4 separate regions of the Homo sapiens genome follow, and regions 1, 2 and 4 are each linked to region 3. The links come from fine-mapping of genetic effects on gene expression. A gene starts in region 3. Each other region holds a variant in brackets. All regions are shown on one strand. Distances are between the middles of the regions.

Region 1 (6,170 bases), 26 kb before region 3:
CACAGCATGTCCTCATCAGAAATCTCCAAAATATGCAGTAAGAGCAATTTAGGCAGGGTTTTCAGTTATACTTCTATTGCATTCATTTTGGGGGGAGGAGGTGGGTAGTGATGATCAGTGGTGATGAACAATTTTAGTACCTGCTTTTCTAAAGACAGCTCTAAAATTTCTCCAAAGGGACTTTTAGAATGAGCATCAATATTTCAAAATTTTAATGACTTTCCTCATGTACCCTTTGCCATTTTGTATGCAAACAAGAGAAAAATGCCAAGATTTCCTTGCTTTTCAAAATTCCAGCATGTAGCCAGAACCATAGAAAATACTAAGGTTCTGTAATTGGTGGTGTAACTGACAAAGATCTCAAACAGAGACGAGAAGAGAATTAAGGTAGGCGGGATGCACCACATGACAAACTTACGGTCAACGACGGGCCACATCTATGACAGTGGTCCCATAAGATCATAATACTGTATTTTTCCTGTGCCTTTTCTATGTTTAGATGTGTGAAATACACAAATACTTATTATTGTGTTACAATTGCCTACAGTATTCAGTACAGTAATAAGCTGTCCTATGTTTGCAGCCTCGGCGCAATAGGCTTTACCACATAGCCTAGCTGTGTAGGTCTGTGTATACTTTGGAGGTTTGCACAATGATTAAATCACCCAACGACCCATTTCTCAGAAGGTATTCCCATTGTTAAGTGAAGCATGACCGTATTGAGAGACGGCCCCAAGATTCTTGTCCCCAGATGTATACACCCTATGTGATCCCTTCCCTTTGGAGTGTGAGCCGGAGTGTAAACAGGATGGGATTTCACCCCTGTGATTAGGTTACTCTATCCAGCAATGATGGGGAGAATTTTCACATGTAATTAAGGTCCTTGATCAGTTGAATTTCAGTGACTCAAAAGAGAGATCATCCTTAGTGCGCCTGAACTAATCAGGAGCGTCTTTAAAACAAAGGGGCCCTTCCTGAAGGTAGCGATTTGAAGCATGAGAGAGATTTTCCTGCTGGCTTTGAAGGAGGACCTGAGGGCAGCCTCTAAGAGCTGAAAGTGAGCCCTGGTCAATAATCAGCAGGAAAACAGGGACCTCAGTCCTACAACTTCAAAATCTGAATTCTGCCAACAACGTGAATGACCCTGAAAGATGACGTCTTCAAAGCAGAGGTGCCAGCTGAGCAGCTGGCAGAGCCACTGGCCTCATCTTCGACTCTGGGCCCCCTTCTAGCTGCACCACCCTATCCTCCAGAGACTTTAAAGTTATGGGTGCCTTCCTGATCTGTGGTCTATGTTGAGCCATTATCTTGGGATTGAGAGAGGCAAGCGAGGAACAACTTCCATTATGTACAAGCATAGTGTCAACCCCAGGGCCATGCTGCCTCAGGTAAAAGTGAGCCTCAGATGAGAATACAGCTGGCTGCCACCCTGATTTTAGCCTGTTAAGCTCACATTATTTTACATGAGCAGCTGTCCCATACCTGAACTCTTGACCCACGGAAACTGTAAAATAATGAATGCATGTTGTTTTCAGCCTCTTTAACTGTGGTAATTCCTTACATAGCAACAGAAACTAATACAAGAGGGTATACTGAACTTCATTCTGATATTGCATGAGGAATGTGCAAATGTCATACACTCTCAGAGAAACCACGTGTTTACTCACCCTAGAAGAAAAGTGGCAAGTTTTTCCATCCACGGACTGACAGCTCGCCCATTGAATTTACTATCCAGCATCTTCTTAGGTGTCCTTTTGTAATCTGATCTTTGCATACGTGCAGATTTGGTTCCAGTGGACTGTGCTCCAAGGCCTCTAGGTTTTGTTACTTGGTTCAAATATAACCAGTAGATGGTGCTGACATTACTACTTAAAAAGCGGGATATTATTTTTCATGGCACAGTGACCATGTGACTGGCACAATGCTCATGATGGCCTACAGGAATTTACCTCTCTAGGCTCTTCTGGATCAATGATTACTCAGAGCCAGATGCGAACCATCACAATTTATAAATTGTTGTGAGAGTAACAAGATGCAGTATTTATTATCTGCATGGTGGCTCAGACACAGAGAAACTTTAAGAGCAACCCCAAACACAAGCACAGGCCGCAGATTAAGACAATGACGTCGGATCAAGTCAAAAGGGACCTGCTGTGAAAAATCACACCCTGCTTTTTTTTTTTTTTTTTTTTTTTTTTGAGACATACTCTCATTCTATTGCCCAGGCTGGAGTGCAGGGGCGTAATCTCTGTTCACTGCAACCTCCACCTCCTGGGTTCAAGCAATTCTCCTGTCTCAGCCTCCCATGTAGCTGGGACTACAGGCACCCACCACCACGTCCAGCTAATTTTTGTATTTTTAGTAGAGATGGGTTTTCACCATGTTGGCCAGGCTGGTCTTGAACTCCTGACCTCAAATGATCCATCCACCTCGGCCTCCCAAAGTGCCGGGATTACAGGCGTGAGCCACCATGCCTGGCCACATCCCACTTTTTAAGCAGTAAAGTCAGCGCCATCTACTGGTTACATGTGAACCAGGTGACAAAACCCGGAGGCCTTGGAGCACCATCCACTGGAACCAAAGCTGCATGTGTGCAAAGGTCAGATTATAGCAAGACACCTAAGAAGGTGCTGGATAGTAAATTCAATGGGAGAGCTGTCAGTTCATGGACAGAAAACCTTGGGAGGGTCCAACAAAGCCCAAAGTCAAATGAGGTACAGACACTGAATGAGAAACAACAGCAAATGGTCTGACCAACCAGGGCTAGAGCAGTTACAGGGAGATGCACCTTTAAGTGTGCACAGAGAGCACCTATAGCTGCTACCACAGAGCAGATGATTTCTGTGTTTACTGTGGCAGGAACTTATATTTAAAAGTTTAATGAAAGAGTAAGTCCTCCATCTATACTAGAACCCTCGAACCACCAATTCATTATAAACCAGAGTGGTTTGG[A/C]TGCGGTTAAAACTGGAAACATCCAGGACACATGACTGTTTTATGATATAAACCACGAGAAGAGCTGTATAATTTTAGTGACCATATTATTTACTTTTTCATGACTTATTCCAATTAAAACAATCTTTTAGAACCTCCTTTTTAGTTTTTGGCTTAGAAAGCATGTCACTTCTAAGTGCCACCAGTGGCAAGATCCTTTTGATAGCCACTAAGTTCAAACATTTTTCCAAGGACAGAGGATGCCTGCAGGTGCTTGTCCTCACCCTTGTGAAGAGATAGCATCCTGTTCAGAAAACAAAACAGGCGCCTCTACTTGAATTTAGTTAAATTTGTCATCTGCATATGTGGTACTCAAGGCATAGCCATCCCCTTAATAAGCAATAGAGAAAATCTGCTCTCCAGGCTTACCAGAGAGGTCAACATTTATTTGGCCATTGCTACTTCTTCCCAGAGCCTTCCTGAGCAAACTGATATTTGACAGAGATGGAATTAGAGGAATGCAATCTATCCATTCTTCCAGGCAGCCTAAGCTCTGTCAAGTTAGATATCTGGCCCTTAACACTGTGGTCATGGTCCACTGGGGTGGGGCAAAAGGCCTGAAGACCTTCCTGGTTTTAGGAGTAACAGTGAAGTGGACCAATTCATGGCCTATCGCAAGGTCCTCATGGCCATGGACTGCACCTTAGAATACCTGAAGTGGATGATGTGAAAACTCTGTTACCTGTGGCTTCCCCTATCTTCTTATCTTCCACCTTCAAGATGAAATGCCTTTGCTAAATTATCTTAGACATATTGATGTTATACCTTCAGTTCTCATGAAGAGAGAATATAAGAAATGGTAACATGAAGAATATCATGACAAATTTGCACTCAGGAAGACACTACACTGTCCATCATATTTTCTCTTTGTATAAGAACAAATACAGGAAATTTCTTTAAAAATTTAAAACCAGAAAAATATATTTATTTAAATTAAAATTTTGTTTTCAAAGAGAAATAAATAATGTACTGGCAGCCAAGAAGCTCAGAGTTGAGGTCAATACTCAATTACAAAAACTCTATTAGCCATGGGATGTATAAAATATGTATCCTCCCTACCAGCACATTGTTTTCTCCTTATATTGTAATATCCTGCTAATGAAATGCCTTTTATCAAGATATCTCAAATCCTTTTTGGGAGTAGATGCGTTGTGCACTAAAAAAATTCAAGTGGGACGATAAACACGAAGCTTTAAGAATATATTATACTTTAAAAGACCATATAATATAGTGGCTAAAAGCCATACTACTTGGCTTTTAAATTGCAACCCAGACATTCCTGACTTTGGTCAAGGTCTTAGTCTCTCTCTGATTAGCTTCCTTACCTGTAAAGTGCAGCAAACAACAGTTCCTCCATATAGGGTTATTTTGAGGAACAAATGTATTGGAGGAATAAATGAAGCACTTAGAATAGTAAGCACTAAACATGGTTTGCTCACGGGCTAATGTTAAACTCTATTAGTATACAGTACGATCAAAACGTCCTATCCTATTAGGCTTTGGTACTTTGTCTATTCCAATGCAACATACAATGCTTACCTACTGTGGCAGATGCTGACGACAGCAGAGATTTGCCCCAGGATCCCCAGCCTGCCCATCCTCCTCCACTTGGAGGGGAATCCACAGCCTGGAGAAAAACAAATTAGCCACAGGTCAGAAATTCAGTATATCTCTGAATGGAAAAACACCTATTGGTTTGAAACAAAGAGGAGGTTTGGAAAAGAATCACCAACAACCGTATCTAATTGGCTTATAGTTTATAAGGGTCATAAAAGAATATCCCAAACCACACTGCAATGTGTACTTTGGAACCAAATTGATTAGTGCTGATGTTGGCTTCTGAAGGCTTGGTTTGAAGTGAGAAGGGAGTTTGATGTTAACTGAGCCTCGATTCTCTCTTATTATTTAGAAGACAGGGAAAAGGCTGCATGGGAAAAAGATACGCATGAGGGCACAAGAGGGATTTGAAAAAGTTCAAAATGATCTGGACCCAGGCAATTCTTACAGGGCTTAAAAAATGTGCTCTTCAAGGTAGAGTTAACTTTTAAACTCTGGGGCAGTAGGCAGGTGCTTTGGCATGGATGATGGGCAAAGTGTCTAAAAAGCGTCAATACACCTGGCGATGGATGGGCAGTAGTGACAGGAAGGCTTGCAAGGTAGAAACCTTTGATTCAAGGTGCCCTGCTTCACTCATAGTGACTCCTATAACACAGGGATAAGACTGTCCCTGACCTCAGTGGATTCCAATTCGTTTGCCTAGGTTTTTGGAATTGGAACTGAGAGACTGTGGTTCAGTGTGAACTGTGTGCATGAACAGAAGTTGAAAACTCAGGCTATGTGGATGACCCTGTTATATCCACCACGCAGACTAAGAATTAAGAGAAGGCAGAGTGAGCAGAATGGAGACTGGCTTAGAGCTGCTGTTTGGATTCCTGACAGCTTCTCAGTCCCTGGTTTCTGTCCCTCTGAAGGCCCTGCTGCTTTCTGATCTTTGGGTTCTATGAGATTCTCTCATATTCTTGTTCATTTTTTTAAATGTTTTATTCACTGATATACTCTCAGAGCTTAGAAGAGTGCTTGGAATATAATGAATGCTTAATAAATATTTGTTGAATAAATGGCTGAAACTCATCCATTTTCTCAGGTATGCGTGTTTCTGTTACTTGCAACCAATGAGTCCTAACTCAAGTAGGGAACCACAGCTTTCTCTTTCTATCTGGGAACACATTCTAGAAAACAAGGCAAGAATAAATATTCTATGAGTTACCTGTATGGAGAATCATAGCTCTTTTTTACTCAAAAGAGAAGAAGGAAGGAAGGAAAGAAGGAAGGGCGGGCAGAAAGAAAGTAAGGAGGCAGTGGAAAATTCCTACAGAGTTTGTAGATTCCATAACTTTTGACTCACAGCTGGTCCATTAGTCATCCCCAACTCCCAACTCCCTTGCTGTTTTTTTTTGTTTTTTTTTTTGAGACGGAGTCTTGCTCTGTCACCAGGCTGGAGTGCAGTGGTGCGATCTCAGCTCACTGCAAGCTCCACCTCCCGGGTTCACGCCATTCTCCTGCCTCAGCCTCCCAAGTAGCTGAGACTACAGTTGCGCACCACCACGCCTGGCTGATTTTTTCTATTTTAGTAGAGACGAGGTTTCACCATTTTGGCCAGGATGGTCTTGATCTCTTGA
Region 2 (6,170 bases), 43 kb before region 3:
CGCAGTGAGCCGAGACTGCGCCGTTGCACTCCAGCCTGGGCAACAGAGTGAGACTTGGTCTCAAAACAAAAAAACAAAAAAGAACATTAGCTTATAGATTCTTAAGTCTGGTTTCCAGAAATATGACTGTGAACCAAGTTTCCTCTCCCCATTAATAACTTTTCTCCAGTTATTTTTTGTTGGTTAAGCAAAAAGACAACAAATAAACACAAGTCCATCAGTCACTCTCAATTTTCTGCACTTGCGTTTTTGATTCTAAGCATCTTTTATGTGATTCCTCATTAAGTTTACTGAGGCATTACGTGTATGGGGTTCTTTAATTTCTGTGGAAAGCACTGTAAAGACACTGGCCACCACCACAAGGTCACAGGGGAAGACAACTGAAGAATAGACTTTGGTTTTTATTGTGTGCCAGAAAAACAATCAGCCTTATTTCCTTCTGGGTTCTCGAGGTTATCTGCCAAGAACCCACAGGGCCGCAAAGAGAATTCTCTCTCCTGTCTGTCTTTAAGACTAAATTAGCACAGACTCTGAATCTTAAAGTTTTTCAAACAACCCAATGAAACCATCACTGGAAAATTTTAACACTGGCAATAAAAACTAATTACCCGCACTGATCTCAGGACTTGGTGGTGGTAAAATAAAATAACAAAGTGACACTGAAATCACTTCCTTTCTCTACACCAGCTTCCACCTCCGAATGTGGGCTTCGGGAGAGAAAAAAGAAGGGATGAAATTGAAGAGAAAGGGAAAGGGTCACTCTGGAAAGATGTGGACTCACTCAAAACTGGGGAGTAGGCCAGGCGCGGTGGCTCACGCCTGTAATCCCAGCACTTTGGGAGGCCAAGGTGGGCCGATCACTAGGTCAGGAGTTCAAGACCAGCCTGGCCAATATGATGAAACCCTGTCTCTACTAAAAATTCAAAAAATTAGCTGGGCATGGTGGCGGGCACCTGTAATCCCAGCTATTCAGGAGGGAGGCAGGAGAATCACTTGAAGCCAAGAGGAGGAGGTTGCAGTGAGCCAAGATTGCGCCATTGCACTCCAGCCTGGGTGACAGAGTGAGACTCCATCTCAAAACAAACAAACAAACAAAACACAACTGGGGAGTGAAATTAAAGCTGCCTGAGGGATAACCAGCTTGACAACGGAGGCTGGTTCTATTTTCCCACTAGAGAAGAAAGGGAAGTGGGTTTCAATAGCAGGGAATGATCCTGGCCTGGAAGAATTCCTGACACAGAGAAGCTATGGAGACTTCCATGTGTGGAATCCAAGGACCCCCTGTCCCCGTGTTATTTAAAGAGTATTCCCTGCGCTTGGCTGGGTGCGGTGGCTCATGCCTGTACTCTCAGCACTTTTCAAGGCCAAATAGGGTGGATCACTTGAGGTCAGGAGTTCGGGACCAGCCTGGCCAACATGGTGAAACCCCGTCTCTACTAAAAATACAAAAATTAGCCGGGCGTGGTGGTGCACACTGTAATCCCAGCTACTCAGGAGGCTGAGGCAGGGGAATTGCTTGAACCCAGGAGGCGGAGGTTGCAGTGAGTCAAGATCGCGCCACTGCACTCCATCCTGGGCGACAGAGTGAGGGCTCTGTCTCAAAAAAAAAAAAAAAAAGAAAAAAGAAAAAAAAAGAAAAAAAAAAAGAAGAAAGAAAGAAAAAGAAAGAGTATTCCCTGTGCCACTAGGATAAAAATACGTGAGAAATGTAGGTAGTGCACGCGTGCACGCTTCTAGTTTCCATAGTTATATATTTCTTTAGTGTGTAAAGGAAAAATATGTGAGCTTCATCCTTCCAGTTGTCCGAAAGACCTTGGAGCCATCCCTGACAACTGCTTTTATCTCACAGCTCACATTCATTCCAACAAGCGATCTGGATCTATCTTCAAATTATAGCCAGAATCAGCCATTCCTCACTACCTACAAGGCCTCCATGCTGCACAGGGCCACCATTATCTCTTGTTTAGATAACAGCAATTGAAAGTGCAATTGCCTCCAGTGGAGGGTGTGACAGTGCAACCTGCAGACCTCCCTCCTACTCCTGGGAGCATAAATGCTGGACTTCGAAATCCAGCCTTCAGCCTCCCACAGCTCTTCCCTGTCAATCACTGGTGCAGCAGGGCACTAAGGCAGACCTGTTCCTGGAAGATGAGGTCTCCTTTGTCAGCAGCCTTTGGCTGAAGGGCTTTCCCATGGCTTCGCCCAGCCTTTCCCATGCCGCACTGCAGTCTGGGACACTTTCACCCATTTTTCTCACCCTCTTCTCTTCACTGGGGTGGGACCGGCATCCTGGTCTAATGGTTCTCCCAGCCTTCCTGGGCTCCCTCCCCATTTTCTCTCACACAAGCACTTCCCCTAATGAAATCCTTGCATGTTTAAGCCCATCTTGGTGTCTGTTTCTGGGAGGGCACAGACTGATAGTCACTCTAACCAGTCTCCCTGCCCTTGGTCCTCCCAGCCAATTTTCTACCCAGGAACCAGAGTGGTCCTGTTAAAGCACAAATCAGATTCTGTCACTTCTTTTCTCAAAATGCTGCAATGGTTTCCCCATTTCACTAACAGTCAAACCCAAGGTCCTTACGAATGTCTGCCATGATCTGCTATCACCTACTCCC[T/C]ATCACCACTCTGATGTCCTCCTCAACAGCTCTCGCCCGGAGCCCACTCCTCTCCATCACGGGCATCCTGCTGTTCTGTGTTCATGCCAGACACTCCTGACTCAGGGCCTTTGCGTGAGTTCTCCCTTGGCCTGGAATGAGCTTTACTCAGGTTCCTGCATGGCCAATGCTCTCATCTCCTTCAAGGATTTGCTCACATGTCATCATCTGCCCAAGGCCCCCTCACTATCCTACTTAACACTCAGCCTGCCCCTCACACCCACATTTCTGATTCCTCATCACCTCTTCCTGTTCTACTTTGTCTTTTTCCCCATGGCACTCGCTCGTCACTTTCTGAAATACCAGATATTGCCTTCCACATCCCCTCTCTGTGAGGCTGGAAGTAAGGCATTTCAAGATGATGAGGCCAGAAGATGTGGGCTCAGAAGTGTGCTAGCCATGAGAGCCCCCTGGGACGAGCTCCTGTGTGAGCAGGAATATTCATGCTGCACTTTGTGAGAGCGAAAGGTAAACCTTTTTGTTCTAAGCCACACTGATACTTAGGGGTGGTTGTTCTTTCATGACATCTAGTGCTAATTACCTAACTAATACTAATCTATTTTCCTTTCTCTTCTTTTTTTTTTTTGAGATGCAGTCCTGCTTTATTGCCCAGGCTAGAGTGCAGTGGCACAATCTCGGCTCACTGTAATCACCACCTCCCTGGTTCAAGCAATTCCCCTGCCTCAGCCTCCCGAGTAGCTGGGATTACAGGTGCTCGCCACCACATCCGGCTAATTTTTTTTTTTGTATTTTTAGTAAAGACAGGGTTTCACCATCTTGGCCAGGCTGGTCTCGAACTCCTGACCTCAGGTGATCTGCCCGCCTCGGCCTCTCAAAGTGCTGGGATTACCGGCATGAGCCACTGTGCCCAGCCATCTATTTTCTTTTTCAAGGAGCAGCAGGGTGATGGTCTAGATGATCCTGCAAAGTCCCTCCCTGGACTATAACATCGGAGTGCTCATACTTGGGTTATTCCAGAAGAGACAAGAAGAAATAGCCTAAAACAAAAGCTTCTAGGGGTTGCCATGAACATATTCTCAGTGATAGCTGTTCATGAAGGCAACCTTCATGGGTTCCTAGTACCAAGTCCTGCCTGTGACGTTTACAAAATCCACTGCTGCATCAGCTGCTTCTGATTTCAGGAAAGCACAGAGACCTGGTGTATCAGTCTCTCGTGGAGGAGGTGGACTGGGGCATGCCTGGATTGTGGGGTAAGCTAGGCATGTTCCATCTGGAAAAGTAAGTTTAATATTAGAGTCATATTTGGAAAACAAGACTAATATTATTTCCAATTTTCTTAACTATTGTAAGTAAGCAAAGACAGATTGAATTCTTTGTTTTATGTTTTGCAAGAAGGGCTGGAAAACTTTAGTGCTGGAAGTGTGAGAGGAGAAGACCATCCTTGCACATATCAAGAGAAACAGAATTTAAAATTCCAATGAGATACCATTTCCACCTATTATACCGACACATAATAACGGCAATGACAACAACTAACATTTCTGAATGCTTACTAAGAGCTGGGTTCTATTCTAACTCAGCGTATCCTCACAACAAAGTTATTGGTAGGTATTTAAATTATCCCCAGTGTACAGATGAGTAAGCTGAGGCACAGAGGGGCTAAGTAACTTGCCCAAGGTCACTCAGCTACTAAGTGGTAGAGATGGGATGCATACCATGACATAAATGGATCATCTTCAAGAAATAATATTAAGTGAATTAAGCAAGGAACAAGAGTGTGTTTAGTATGTTACCACTGGGTTGAAAAAATATGTGTGTATTTATGTGCATGTCTATCCACATGCATACATATGTACTTTTACATCTGTATATTTATGTATAGCTGCATCTATAGATCTATATCCATATCTCTCTGCGGTCTCTGATAGAATCCTTAAGGAACTGTTAACTGGTTGTCTCCTCTGAGGAATTAAGTGACTGGGGAAATGGGGGTATTAGAAGCTCAGTTTTCTCTCTCTGCTCTTTGGTGTCATTTGATTTGAATCACATGCTTTAAATGAGCTATTCAAAAAGATAAATAAAAAATTTATTTACTTTATTGACTGAAAGAAAAAATTGCAAACGTATATAATCCAACCTGAGACAAGGAAACAGTTCTCTCCATGAGCGTCTTGGTCCGCTTAAAGCCCGGGTCACTTTCTGCAAGGACATTCATGGTTTTCTTGCCGATGAATTCCAACGCATCAAGGCCTCCAGTTAAGACACTTTTACCCTGCAGATGAGATAACTGCATGAGATTAGATGTTTAGGTTTTGCTGTTTCGCAGCAGTCAGCAACTCCTAGGTAACTGGCACTATCTTCAAATATTAAAATCAATATAAAGTCACAATTTTTTCTCATCAGGAGATTTATCATCCATTTAATCCTATTCTCGTTTCCTTGGAAAAGCATATGTTATATAATTTGTAGGACATACAATGTTATTAAAGACTGATGCTTAGAAAAAAACCAAAGCACATAAAATAAAATTAATCCCACAAAGGGATTAATTTTACTGGCTCTCTGTGTATGAATGGATGTGTATCTAAGACATAAAATTAACATAAAATAAATTGCTAAGACATAAAATTAACATAAAATAAATTGCTGTTTCTGTTTAAAAATTTTTTTAACCCAAGTAACAGAGTTGCTTGGAGCAGTCTATTAAAATGTCAAACAGTCCTGCTAATTTAGGGAATTCTTTAATCTAGGGCCCTGGAGGGTAAGACCCTCAGGCTGTTTCAGATGGTTCTTGCATACTCTCAGAAACTAGCAATAACTGCCTATAATTAGTATATCCATGAAATGAGACAGGTTGATTTCCTTGTACTTCTGGCTTTAGAAACTGGTGTATTATATAGCTATCCTCCTGCAAATCCCTTTGTCAGTCATTGTTGCTTTTTTTAAAAAATTAAAATAACCCAGACTTACTCACACATAAACTATTCAAGTGAACAGAACTGCATACATGTCTTTGCAACTCTTTCATACTTACACTCCAACTGTATAACTGCAATTATAATATGCATACATCTGTGTTTTTCCCCACCATATATAAAAATGATATAAATTGTATTTTATTATGATATTATTACTGATATGCATTTTCCAATCTTCATAATTATCATTTAAATAGAAGTATTTAATTTCATAGAATTAATATACTTTATTTTCATCTTGGGTATTTAGACTTTGTTTTTAGATTTGGGAGCCAACCAGTAATCATGCTGTAAATCAGTTTTCAGTGCGCACACTTCGGGGGGATGATGGGACAGCAGCAATTCACACTTCTGTGTAATTTGACTTAGTGCCTGCTAACATCCTATGAAAAATTATTTTATTGAGAATAAAATGGTGGAAGAAAGGACACAGGGATTTGTGTTAAGGATAGACTTGGAGGGGTAGTGTCTGGAACTTGGGAAAAAGGGGTCAAGAAGGTTGGAGAGAACACAGAAAGGAATGTGAGGCTGCTGAAGACAAACTCATAGTGCCCTCTTGGTAGCTCAGATAGGCCGT
Region 3 (6,170 bases):
TCCTTCAGAAATCAATCATCTGTTTGAGGAGCTAACACAAAACAGTTAAAAAGTGATGCAAAACAGCACAGCAAATCAAGGACAGATGTGCCTGAACTAGACTGACCCTGTGCAAGGGAGAATCTTGAAAGTGTCTTTGATGTGGTGATTCAGGCCTGGTGGGATGAGAGCATGTGCAAATGTCCAAGCATCAGCGATGGACTGTAGTGATTCAGGACAGGTGTCTGAGAGGCCAGGACATGAGGCTGCATGGAGGAATGATGAGAGGTGGGAGCGATGGTATTCTGAGGTGGAAAGAGTTGTGTCCTGCAGGCGTCAAGGGATGTGGCCTCTGGTCCCAGTATCCCTTTGTGGGCACACAACTTGATCCTCACTGTGCTTACACCTGCTCCTCTGTAAAGCTAGGATGGACAAACTGATCTGGATGCTTTTTTTTCCAAACTCCACCTGCAGGACTGGGGCAAGTCTGTGATGATAGAGAAAAATGAGGACAAGATTGCAAGTTTTTCATAAATCTAAATTTATTAAATGTAAAGGACTGCCTTCATCTTTCAAGTTTAGCCTTTGTGCTTTTTCTTGGTATTAAAATGTCTTTCATTTTATGAAATAGTGACAGTGGATGGATTTTTTTAAAAAAAATGGCCTGACTTGGCAGCATAAAAATTTGGTTAGCATGATATCCTGTGTGAGGTCATCTCCCCCAGTTAAAAAAAAAAAACAAAAACAGTGCCAGTCAGCGAAGGACCAGGAATAAAAACTCTGGATGAGAGGCTCTTAATCAGGTTGTAGCAGTTTGTATGAGTTTGTATAAAGCTTGACAAGTCTACGTACCCAGGCTCCAGCCTATTCTCTGTGAGGCTGCCAGGCATTTTTGGACCTATTTGCTCTCCTGTTCAAAAACCATTAGGTGTAAATATCTTCACACTTCCCATCATAATCCAGCTCCAATCTCTCTCCACCTCTTGCAACTCTCAGTATCCTCCACTCCTGCCTCACCAGTCTTTTCTCCATTCCCCATAACTCTTCACATCTCCCTGCCTTTGCTTACGCTGGTTCCTCTGCCCCGGTGCTGCCCTTCCTCCAGCTGCCTGGCAAACTCCTATTCCTCTAGACACCCAGTGTCTAATGTTACCTTTCATTCTGAATTTTTCCTTAATCTGCCCCACTGCTTCCAATGAAATAACTGCTACCTCTTCTATGTTTTTGGCACTTTGCACAGATTTCTATTCCATGTATTTATGGAGTATTTACTTCTGCCATTCTGTCCTCCAAGACTGTGACCAACAGCACCTAGGTTGGTTTCTGTCCCTCAGATATTTACTGAATTGAAATACATTGTGTTTGATATTAATAAAAGAGAAACCATGTTTGATGTAAGCCTGGTCAAATAAACAAAGACAAGTTTACTTTTATGGTCTGAATCGCTCAGATTCAAGAAAGCCCCCTCCAACCCTCAAATTCCTTCTGCACTGTCTCACTTGTGCCTCAAATCCATCCCTAACGTCTCATTCCTTCACTTAAAGGTTACAATGTAAGAAGTTTATCAGATTCTTTCCCAAGCTCAGGCTTGATGGAAGAAAGGAGGGCGGGGACGCAGGCCTATGGGTGGGGTAGGGAAGGAGCCACTAGGCTGCAGAGAGGGCAAAAAGAGGCTCTGAGGATAGAGCCTGTCTCATTCTCAGTTGTCACAGGTTGGCTGAGGTCACAGGGAGTTCAGAGCACACTGATTTAAGAAGCCACCTGCCTGTGTCCTTCAAGATGTTTAGGATGGGAAATGATGGGATCAGTAGGGCATAGGTAATGCTCTCACAGCCCATAGAGAGATGTCTTCCTACTTAAGAAAAGGCAGTGACGTTCAGGCGCCTGGTCTGAGGTGCCTGGAAATACTCACCGGATGGCAGAGGCGAGGGCTAGCCGACTGGGTGGAGGGGGCCTGGGGATCTGCGGTAGGGAGTGGGACCCATCCCGGGGGCTGCGAGTGGAGGCGGTGCCTGCTTAGAGTGTTGGCTGGACTGGAAGAGCAGGCAGGGCGTGGGTCGGCTGTTGGGGGAGGAGTAAGGCGAGGGGAGCGGGGAGGTCAAGGCCTGAGCTCCCTGTGCCAAGGCCGAGGGCAGGCGCACCCTGGGACGAGGCCTCTGTCTTACAGGGACCTGCTCCCTTCGTGCCCGGGCTGGGGGACCCTGCAGCCCACCTCTGACTTGGCCCCGAGCCATTGGGGGCACTTTTCCAGACTTGCTTGGTGCCAGGACTGGATACTTTGGGAGATCCAGGCAGGCTCCGCGGAGGTTCACGCAGGCCGAGGGGGCAGACCCTGAGTGTGGGCGTGTGGGTGTGTGCATGAGCGTGGACCCGGAGCGACACACACTCACACACACACACTCACACGCCCGCACCCACGCAGGTCCCTCGGCCGCGCCGCCCCAGACCCTCACCCCAGAGCCGGGTCCTCCCTGACCACTGCTTCTCACTAACGCAGAGGGCAGGATTCGTGGGTCCCGGACGAGGCGCCAAGGTATGGTGTTCCCACCACCCCCGGGCAGCCGCCCCCGCGCTCGCCCGCCCCCCGGGGAAGGGGATGGGGACCGAGTGCCCGGGGCTCTTACCGCTCAGGCGGCCGAGTACGCGCGGGAGTGCCCAGCGGGTCCCGCCCCGCCACGTCTGCAGGGCCGGCGGGGACGCGGCCGGAGGGCGGGCGGCTGGAGAGGGGGCCCCGCCCCGCCTGCGCCCCGCCCCACGAGGAGCGCCGCGGGGACGCCCGGCCACCCCCACGCTGCGAGGGCCGGGCCCGCGCTGGGCGAGTCTCCTGGAAACTTGGCTTGTCCCACCCCTGTGCCAGCGCGGAAAGCCAGAGCGCGCCGCCTCTCCAGCCCAGGGCGGGTGGGTCTCGGGGTTCGCCAGATCCCTTTCCTTTCCTTAAAAGGGCTTGGAAAACCCCCCGCCGTGTCACTGGGAAGAGGTCGCTCAAATTCAGCTAAAGTTTGATCTCCTGATTCTGCGTTAAGCAGCACTCCCTTGCCCTGTCGGTGGGAGTGTGATAGATTTAAAACAAACAAACCCCAAACAAACAACGAAAACCCACTTTCCAGAAGGCCAGTTTGGAGCTGTGGGTTAAAACTCCGATGTATTAGCTTTGGCCTAGGAATTCCACATTTGTGAATTTGTCCTAAGTAGGCAGTCAAATGGGCAAATATGTATGTACAAGGATGTTTGTTGTAGTTGTTTCTGCGGGGGGAAGCCGGAGACAATCTCAATGTCCCCCAGTAAGATTGGTGAAGTAAGCTACAGTAACTTCAGACATCGAATATGTTGTAGCCCTTAAAAATGAGGATTCGTTGACATGGAGGGAAGGCCACATATGAAGGCCTTCCTCAAATATGGCTTAATATGAACTCAGATGCGGAGGAAGCGCAGTGTTTATAGTATTAACTAGTTTTGTAAACAATTTTGTATTTTCTATAAAAGTCGGAGGAAATACAATTTAAAAATAGTGATTCTTTCTGAGCGATGTGTTTAAGGCAGATTTTCTCCTCTCTCACTCCATCCCTTCTTCTTTTTGAAGAATTATAAATTCAAAGTTAAAGAAAAAATAGCCCTAGTCTCTCCCTTTCAATATCACTACCATTTTTTATAGTGTGTGGATCCTACCATAGTTTTTCTAAGCTTATATAAATACATGTATGCATAAACAGCTTTTTGTTTGCTTTTTTATAAAAATGGCGAGATGTTGACGTATTTTGTAAATTTCCCCCTATTTATTATATATTATAATCATCTTTCTTGGTCAATACATATCAACCAAAACCACTCTTCTAAGACTTGTCTTATATATTGCAATATGTTTGTAATTATATTTCATTCAATCATTCTCCTATTGACAATTAGTTTGCTCCTTATATTCCAGTTTCTTCCATATATATATTAATTAATTTATTAATTCATTTTTTTGAGATGGAGTCTTGCTCTGTCGTCCAGGCTGGAAAGCAGTGGCGTGATCTCAGCTCACTGCAGCCTCTGCTTACTGGGTTCAAGCAATTCTCCTGCCTCAGCCTCTTGAGTAGCTGGGATTACAGGTGCGTGCCACCACACCCGGCTAATTTTTGTATTTTTTAGTAGAGACGGGGTTTCACCATGTTGGCCAGGCTGGTCTCGAACTCCTGACCTCAGGTGATCCACCCACCTCGGCCTCCCAAAGTGCTGGGATTACAGGCATGAGCCACCGTGCCTGGCTATATTTCTTATTTAATATTTTTATTAAATATTTTTATATTAATAATTTTTTAAGCTACTGAATATTTATTTTATTTTATTTTTTAGGAGGACAGAGTCTTGATCTGTGGCCTAGGCTGCAGTGCAGTGGCACCATCTCCATCTCCTGGGTTCAAGCGATTCTTCTGCCTCAGCCTCTTGAGTAGCTGGGATTACAGGTGCGTGCCACCACACCCGGCTAATTTTTGTGTTTTCAGTAGAGACAGGGTTTTGCCATGGTGGCAAGGCTGGTCTCGAACTCCTGACCTCAAGTGATCTGCCCACCTCGGCCTCCCAAAGTGTTGGGATTACAGGCGTGAGCCACCACACCCAGCCTGTCATTTTTAAATTCATAGAAAAACCAGAAAGTTATCTTAATGTGAGAGTGGGTGGAAACTGCTTTAAATTGAGATCAATAGCCTTTTTGAATTGAGCGAGACTTTGAACCTTAACTAACACGTGGCTTCTGTAACTCAGTTTTTCCACCTCTAAAATAAAGAGCATTGCTCGGCACAGTCCCTTCCAGTTCTGGCTTTGCGAGTGTTATCAAATTATGTTCCAGTTGCAACAGGTGTGTTTTGGTGTAGCATATACACAGACGTCTGTGCCTGGGACTTCTGCTCCTGCCCAGAGACAGCAAGCACCTTTGCTAACCTGCCTTCCCTTCCCTGCTGTGCCGTAACAGCCCAATCAGATGTTCTCTTTTTAAAGGGCTGAGTTCCTCTTCTCCTTTGACCCAAACCACACCTATCCAATAAAGAAAATAAAGCAAACTATCCTGGCAACAAGTTTGTTTTTTGTTTTGCCCACTGCAAATTTGTCCCTTTTACTCATGTAGCTGCTTCCAGGACTACCAGATTTTATTTCAGATATTTTATTTATTTGCAATGTAAAACATTTTAAGTTCATTTAAAAATTTTCTGGAGTATTTAAAATATATAGAAAAGTAAAGAATAATATGACAAATACTTATTTGTGTAAAAAATATAGGAAATACTATGATGATATCTAGATTTAACAAAATTTTTTGCAGTATTTATTTTAGAATTTTCTTTGCAAAGAAAAAAATGTTACGGATATGTTTGAAACCCTATCCCTTCCATTGTCCACCATCTCTGCAGGTAGCCATTTTCTTGAGGTGGTTGTATATCCCTCCCACCCATATTTCTTTCTTTCTTATTTAGGAATGAGGTCTTACTCTGTCACCTAGGCTGGAGTGCAGTGGTGTGATGACGGCTCAGTGCGGCCTCAGACTCCTGGGCTCCAGCAATCCTCCTGCCTCAGCCTCACAAGGAGCTAGGATCACAGGGTGCCACTGCACCCAGCAAATTTTTAAATTTTTTTGTAGAGTCGTGGTCTTGCTGTGTTGCCCAGGCTGGTCTCAAACTCCTGGCTTTAAGCAATCCTCCCGCCTCAGCCTCCTAAAGTACTGGGACTACAGGTGTGAGCCACCATGCACAGCCCCCCTCACTCATATTTCTAAATGTTTGCTGCATATGTCCTCACCCACAAATGCACGTATAATTGTTTTTCAATGTTTTAGAATATTAAGGACATCCTGTACACTTGTTAACTTGCATTATATTTTTGAGAATCATTCATATTCACACATGTAGCTCTAGCACATTCATTTCAAAGTCTTCATAGGAGGGCATGAATATGCCACAATTTATTTCCCGATTGATCTACTTTATTGTGCTTCATATTTCACTCAATTACATATAATGCTACAATTGCCACCTTTGAATATATTTTTTAGTATCTAGGAAAAAAATGGAATAGCTGGTTCCCCTTTACTAGACATTGCTGAGTCGCCCTTCATTATGGGTCAACCATTTATTCAACATAACCTTTCTGAAAGCATGCACTGTGTACCAAATACGGCTGTAGGTGCTTGGAGTACAAAAGAAGCAAAGCAAACTCCT
Region 4 (6,170 bases), 29 kb after region 3:
AGAAGAAAAAGTATATCACAGGGACAGATTATGGGCAATTGCATGGAGGTAGTCCATAAGAGCTGGCCAACTTTCACCATTATTAATATTTTAAAGTCTTGCATCACAACAAATAGCTGATTTATTTCTTTCAGGGCACTGTTCTCCTCAGAGAATACATTCACATTTATTTTCGATGTGGCACTGCTTGTTTGGAAATGCTTCTCTGCTTCTATTTACATATTTACACCAACATGAGCATTCCTGTTAAATGTTCTCATCTTCAGTGCCGTGCTTCTGTGTTGATTTGGGTACATGAAAATCTATTCTGCATGCACTCATATACAGACCACACATTTGGCAGAAACAATACTGGTGATCAATCAACAACAGCATTGTGTGTCTTCTTTTTTTTTTTTTTTTGAGAGGGAGTCTTGCCCTGTCACCCAGGCTGGAGTGTAATGGCGCGATCTCGGCTCATTGCAACCTCCACCTCCCGGGTTTAAGCAATTCTCCTGCCTCAGCCTCCCAAGTAGCTGGGATTACAGGAACCCACCACCACGCCCAGCTAATTCTTGTATTTTTTTAGTAGAGACGGGGTTTCACCATATTGGCCAGGCAGGTCTCGAACTCCTGACCTCGTGATCCATGGGCCTCAGCCTCCCAAAGTGCTGGAATTACAGGTGTGAGCCACCACGCCAGTCCTGTGTCTTCTTATCCTACCATATGCATTATTATTTTCAAATCAGTCAGTAACTTCACTGGGTGCTTTAGGCAAATGCAACTTTAATTCATTGAGAACTCCTGGTATTTCATCAGCCAGAAGGAATGCCAGTGCAGACAAATAATGTATTTTTAAACTAAATTTTTCATCATTGCCACATTATGTGGCCAATCCTCTCAACTGAATTTTCTGACAAATGCATTGGGCTGAATGGAAGAAAACAAACTTTATTGGTAACACCTTGAAATTCCCTTTTAGAAGCCTTGATCACACCTAATTCCAAATCAAGTGATAGGTCATTATGATTTGAGGATTCAGTTGGACATTAGGGATTTTAGACTTTGGGGACTTTGATCTTTTAGGATTTCAGCCTTCAGGATTGTGTCTTTCGGGATTATAATCAGCACTGCTGAAAGTCTAGCTCAGCACTGGCACCACTGTCGAGTGCCCATCGGAGGTTTCTCAGGCTCAACTAAACATTCATACCCAAATGCCCCAATAGGCCACACTCAGAAGCTCAATTTTCTACCTGGTACTTATAGTTCATACACAGTCCTTTCATCCTGGATGCAATTTACCAGTCAGGGATCATTGTTACAATAAGTAATGTTGGCTGGTACACAGCTGACTTTCTACATGTTTCAGGTTTTCAGAATAGGGCTAGGAAGTTAACTTGAGGTCAGATCAGTCCATGGAGAAAGAGAGAAATGGATTTGTTAACCCTTCAGCCGTGAAGGGTCACTGGTTGCAGCAGATGGCTGAGTTGGTGCCAAACTGGATACTGGTATAAACTACTGAGTATGTCTTGGAGTTTTTGGGACTGGCTTCTTGCCTGCTTTTTTAAATTATCAAACCGGCTGGTCTAATATTTGGTGGTGGGGAAGGATAAAAGAACTTCTTCTTTAAAAGAGAATAACTATTTTTTGAGTACAGCACGTAGTTAACTTTCAATACAGTTGATTTAAAGCCTTTGCCTAGTAAGTCCAATGTCTATGCTTTTTCCATTTCTATTAATTTTTTTTAAAAAAAAATCAATAGACTTTATTTTTTAGAGCAGTTTTTTTTTGTCTATTTAGTTTTGCCTTTCCTGGAATATCATATAGTTGAAATAAAATAGTATTTAGCTTTTTCAGACTGACTTCTTTCACCTAGCAAAATGGATTTAAGGATCTTCCCCCCCTTCCCTCCCCTCCCTCCCTTCCCTCCCTTCCTCCCCTCCCTTTGCCTCCCCTCCCTCCCTTCCTTCCTTCCTCTTTCTCTCTTTCTATTTCTTTCTCTCTTTTTCTTTCTTTCTCTCTCTTTCTTAACTTTCTTTCTCTCTCTCCTTCTCTCTCTCCCCCTCTCTCCCTCCTTTCTTTCCTTCCTCCCCTTCCTTCCTTCCTTCCTCCCTTCCTTCCTTCCTTCCCTCCCTCCCTCCCTTCCTTCCTTCTCTTTTTCTCTTTCTTTCTTCTTTCCTTCCCCACAAAATAATTATACATATTTATGGGGTAACTACAATATTTGACACATACATACCGTGTGTCAAATCAGGGTATTTAGGATATCCACCATCTCAAACATACATCATTTTGTGTGTGGGTGGGGGAGCATTTCAGATCTTCTCTTCTAGCTGTTTTGAAATATACAATAAATTATTGTTAGCTATAGTCACCCTACTGTGTTATTGAACACTAGAACTTTTTCTTTTTATCTAACTGTATGTTTTTATCCATTAACCAACCTCTCTTCATTCCCTCACTCACCTCTTAGTCTCTGGTAACTATTGTTCTACTCTCTACCCTCCTGAGATGCGTATTTTAGCTCCCACAGATGAGTGAGAACACAATATTTGCCTTTCTGTGCCTGGCTTATTTTGCTAATGTAATGACCTCCAGGTCCATCCATATTGCTGCAAATGACAGGATTTAATTATTTTAAATGGCTGAATGGTATTCCATCGGGTATATATATCACATTTTATTTATCCATTCATCTGTTGATGGACTGTTAAGTTGATTCCATATTTTGGCTATTGTGGATAGTGCTGCAATGAACATGGAGGTGCAGGTATCCCTTTGATACACTGATTTCTGTTCTTTTAGATAAACATCCAGAAGTGGGGTTGCTGGATTGTATGTTAGTTCTATTTTTAGTTTTTTGAGACAACTCTGTACTGTTCTCCATAATGGCTGTACTAATTTACATTCCCACCAACAGTGTATAAGAGTTCCCTTTTCTCTGCATTCTCACCAGCATTTGCTATTTATTGTCTTTTTGATGACAGCCATTTAAACTAGAATGAGATGATATCTCGTTGTGGTTTTGATTTGCACTTCCTTGATGATTCATGGTGAGCATTTTTTTCATATAACTCTTGGCCATTTGTACGTCTTCTTTTGAGAAATGTCTATTCAAATCCTATGCCTACTTTTTCATAGGATTATTATTATTTTTGCTGTTGAGTTGTTTGAGTTCTTTGTATATTGTGGCTATTAGTCTTTATTGGATGAATAGTTTGCAAATATTTTCGCCCATTTAACCCTGTTATCTATTCACCCTGTTGATTGTTTCCTGTGCTGTGTAGAAGTTTTTAGTTTAATGTAGTCCCATTTGTCTATTCATATTTTCAT[TG/G]CCTGTACTTTTGAAATTTTAGCCATAAGATCTTTACCTAGACCAGTGTCCTCAAGCATTTCTTCTGTTTTCTCTTAGTAGTTTTATACTTTCAAGTCTTACATTTAAGTCTGTAATCCATTTTGAATTGATTTTTGTATATGGTGAGAGATAGGGGTCTAGTTTCATTCTTACAGGGGTCTAGTTTCATTCTTATACATATGAGTGAATATGAAGCCAGCACCATTTATTGAAGAGAGTGGTCTTTCCCCAGTGTATGTTGTTGGCATCTTTGTTGAAAATTGATTGGCTGTAAATATGTGGATTAATTTCTGGGTTCTGTATTCTGTTCTATTGGTCTATGTATCTGTTTTTGTACCAATACCATGCTACTTTTGCTTTGCAGTATCGTTTGAAGTCAAGTAGTGTGATCCCTTCAGCTTTGCCCCTTTTCCTCAGTACTGATTTGGCTATTTGGGGTGTTTTCTGGTTCCATATGAATTTTGAGATTATTTTTTATATTTCTGTAAATAATATCATTGGTATTTTGATAGGGATTGCATTGGATCTGTAGATTGCTTTGAGTAGTGTGGTCATTTTAACAATGTTAATTCTTCCAGTCCATGAACATGGGATGTCTTTCCATTTTTTTGTGTTCTCAATTTCTTTCATCAGTATTTTGTAGTTTTTGTTGTAGGGGCCTTTTGCCTTCTTGATTAAGTTTATTCCTAGGTATTGTAATTGTCTTGTAGCTATGCAAATAAGATTGCTTTCTTGATTTCTTTTTTCTTTTTTTTTTTTTTTGAGACTGAGTCTCACTCTGTCACCCAGTCTGGAGTGCAGTGGCACAATCTCAGCTCACTACAACCTCTGCCTCCCAGGTTCAAGTGATTCTCATGCCTCGGCCTCCTGAGTAGCTGGGATTCCAGGTGTCTGCCAACACACCTGGCTAATTTTTTGTATTTTTAGTAGAGATAAGGTTTCACCATGTTGGCCAGGCTTGTCTTGAACTCCTGACCTCAGGTGATCTGCCCACCTCAGCCTCCCAAAGTTCTGGGATTACAGGTGTGAGTCACCACACCCAGTCCTTGTCTGGTTTTGGTATCAGGAAAATGCTGGCTTTGTAGAATGAGTTAGGAGGAATACCTTCATCTTTAATTTTTTTGAATAGTTTGAGAAAACTTTGTGTTAATTGTTTGTTAAAAATTCAGCAGTAAAGCCATCCAGTCCTGAGATTTTCTTTGTTGGGAAATGTTTTATTACTGATTCAAACTTATTACTTGTTATTGGTCTGTTCAGATTTTTCTATTTCTTCCAGGCTCAAATTTGGTAGGTTGTATATATCCAGAAATTTATACATTTCCTGTAGGGTTTCCAATTTGTTAACATATAGGTGTTCATAATTGCCTCCAATGATCTTTTATATTTCTGTGGTATCAGTTGTAATGTCTCCTTTTTTATTTCTGATTTTATTTATTTTGGTCTTCTTTCTTTTCTTGTCTTGGTTAGTCTAGCTAAAAGTTTATTGGTTTTGTTTATCTTTTCAAAAAATAATTTTTTTGTTTTATTGATCTTTTCTATTTTTAAATATCTCTTTTGTTTAGTTCTCTGAGCTTTAGTATTTCTTTCTTTCTCCTAACATTTGAAAGTGTTTGTTCTTGCTTTTCTATTTGTTCTTGCTTCCTTGAGGTTCGTTGTTAGGTTGTTTATTTCAAATCTTTCTACTTTTTTGATGTAGGCATTTATTGCTATAAATTTCCATCTTAGCATTGTTTTTGCTGTGTCTCCTAGGCTTTGGTGTGCTGTATTTGCATTTTAATTTTTTTCAAGAAACTTTTTTACCTCCTATTTAATTTCTTCATTCACCCAGTGGTTGTTCAGGAGCATGTTGTTTAATTTCCATGTATTTATACAGTTTCAAAAGTTCATCTTGTTATTGATTTGTAGTTTTATTCCATTGTGATCTGAGAAAATACTTGATATGATTTCAATTTTTAAAACTTTTGTTGAAACTTGTTTTGTGGCCTAAGATATGGTCTATTCTGAACAATGTTCCATGCACTGATGAGAAGAATGTGTACTCTGCAGCTATCAGATGAAATGTTCTGTAAATATCTGTTAGGTCCATTTTGTCTAAAGTGCAGTTTAAATCCAATGTTTCTTTGCTGATATTCTGTCTAAATGATCTGTTCAATGCTGAGAGTGGGATGTTGAAGTTCCCAACCATTATTGTATTGGAGTCTATCTCTCTCTTTTGATCTAATAATATTTGCTTTATATATCTGGATGTTCCTGTGTGGGGCACATATATACTTAGAATTGTTATATCCTTTTGATGAATTGATCCCTTTAACATTATATAATGGCTTTTTTTGTCTTTTTTAATAGTTTTATACTTAAAGTCTGTTTTATCTGATAAGTATAGCTATTCTTGCTTGCTTTTGGTTTCCATTAGCAAGGAATATCTTTTTCCTTTCCTTCAATTTCAGTCTATATGTGTCTTTGAAGGTGGGGTGAATGTCTTGTAGGCAGCATATAGTTGGGTAAGTAAAAAAAATCTATTCAGCTAGTTTGTATCTTTTAAGTGAGGAAGTTAATCTTTTTACATTCAAGGTTATCACTGATAGGTAACGACTTATTTCTGTCATTTGGCTTATTGTTTTCTGGTTGTTTTGTATATCCTTTGTTCCTTTCTTCCTCTCATTGTTTATCATTGAACTTTGGTGGTTTTCTGTAGTAGTAACTTCAACTCTTTTCTCTTTCATTTATGTATTTGCTCTACTAGTGAGTTTTATACTTTCATGTGTTTTCATAATGGTAGATATAATCTTTTCACGTCCAGACGTTCTACTCTCTTAAGCATTTCTTGTAGGGCTCG

Which allele goes with the higher level. Alleles are on the strand shown, and positions count from the first base shown. SD is a standard deviation of normalised expression in the study named. Not every link is listed here.
In carriers of allele T in region 2, the expression in testis of the gene that starts at base 2,632 in region 3 tends to be lower than with C alone (small effect, 0.32 SD a copy in GTEx).

What was found. PIP is the estimated chance that this variant, and not a neighbour inherited with it, causes the effect.
Region 1: its variant is fine-mapped to the expression of FAM114A1 in whole blood (TOPMed, PIP 0.94).
Region 2: its variant is fine-mapped to the expression of FAM114A1 in testis (GTEx, PIP above 0.99). The same link has a PIP of 0.9 or more in atrial appendage, breast, caudate, gastroesophageal junction, lung and ovary.
Region 4: its variant is fine-mapped to the expression of FAM114A1 in whole blood (TOPMed, PIP above 0.99).

Annotation. Positions count from the first base shown.
Region 1 is chr4:38,890,191-38,896,360 of GRCh38, reverse strand. FAM114A1 (family with sequence similarity 114 member A1) reads right to left here. Exons shown (of 15, transcript NM_138389.4): 4 at 4,531-4,618. Among named protein-coding and RNA genes, the nearest start is that of MIR574, 25 kb to the right of the region's middle. RefSeq lists an enhancer at 5,249-5,418. The variant A/C (reference allele first, on the strand shown) is at 2,953.
Region 2 is chr4:38,907,309-38,913,478 of GRCh38, reverse strand. FAM114A1 (family with sequence similarity 114 member A1) reads right to left here. Exons shown (of 15, transcript NM_138389.4): 7 at 4,753-4,887. Among named protein-coding and RNA genes, the nearest start is that of MIR574, 42 kb to the right of the region's middle. The variant T/C (reference allele first, on the strand shown) is at 2,616.
Region 3 is chr4:38,864,268-38,870,437 of GRCh38, reverse strand. It overlaps FAM114A1 (family with sequence similarity 114 member A1), which reads right to left and starts at 2,632. Exons shown (of 15, transcript NM_138389.4): 1 at 2,604-2,632; 2 at 1,892-2,040. MIR574 (microRNA 574) reads right to left here and starts at 2,406; the gene lies at 2,311-2,406. It also overlaps a transcript of TLR6 not described here. RefSeq lists an enhancer at 1,498-2,081 and silencers at 2,289-2,338, 2,389-2,868.
Region 4 is chr4:38,834,866-38,841,035 of GRCh38, reverse strand. All of the region lies in intron 1 of TLR6 (toll like receptor 6), which reads left to right. Among named protein-coding and RNA genes, the nearest start is that of TLR6, 19 kb to the left of the region's middle. The variant TG/G (reference allele first, on the strand shown) is at 3,313.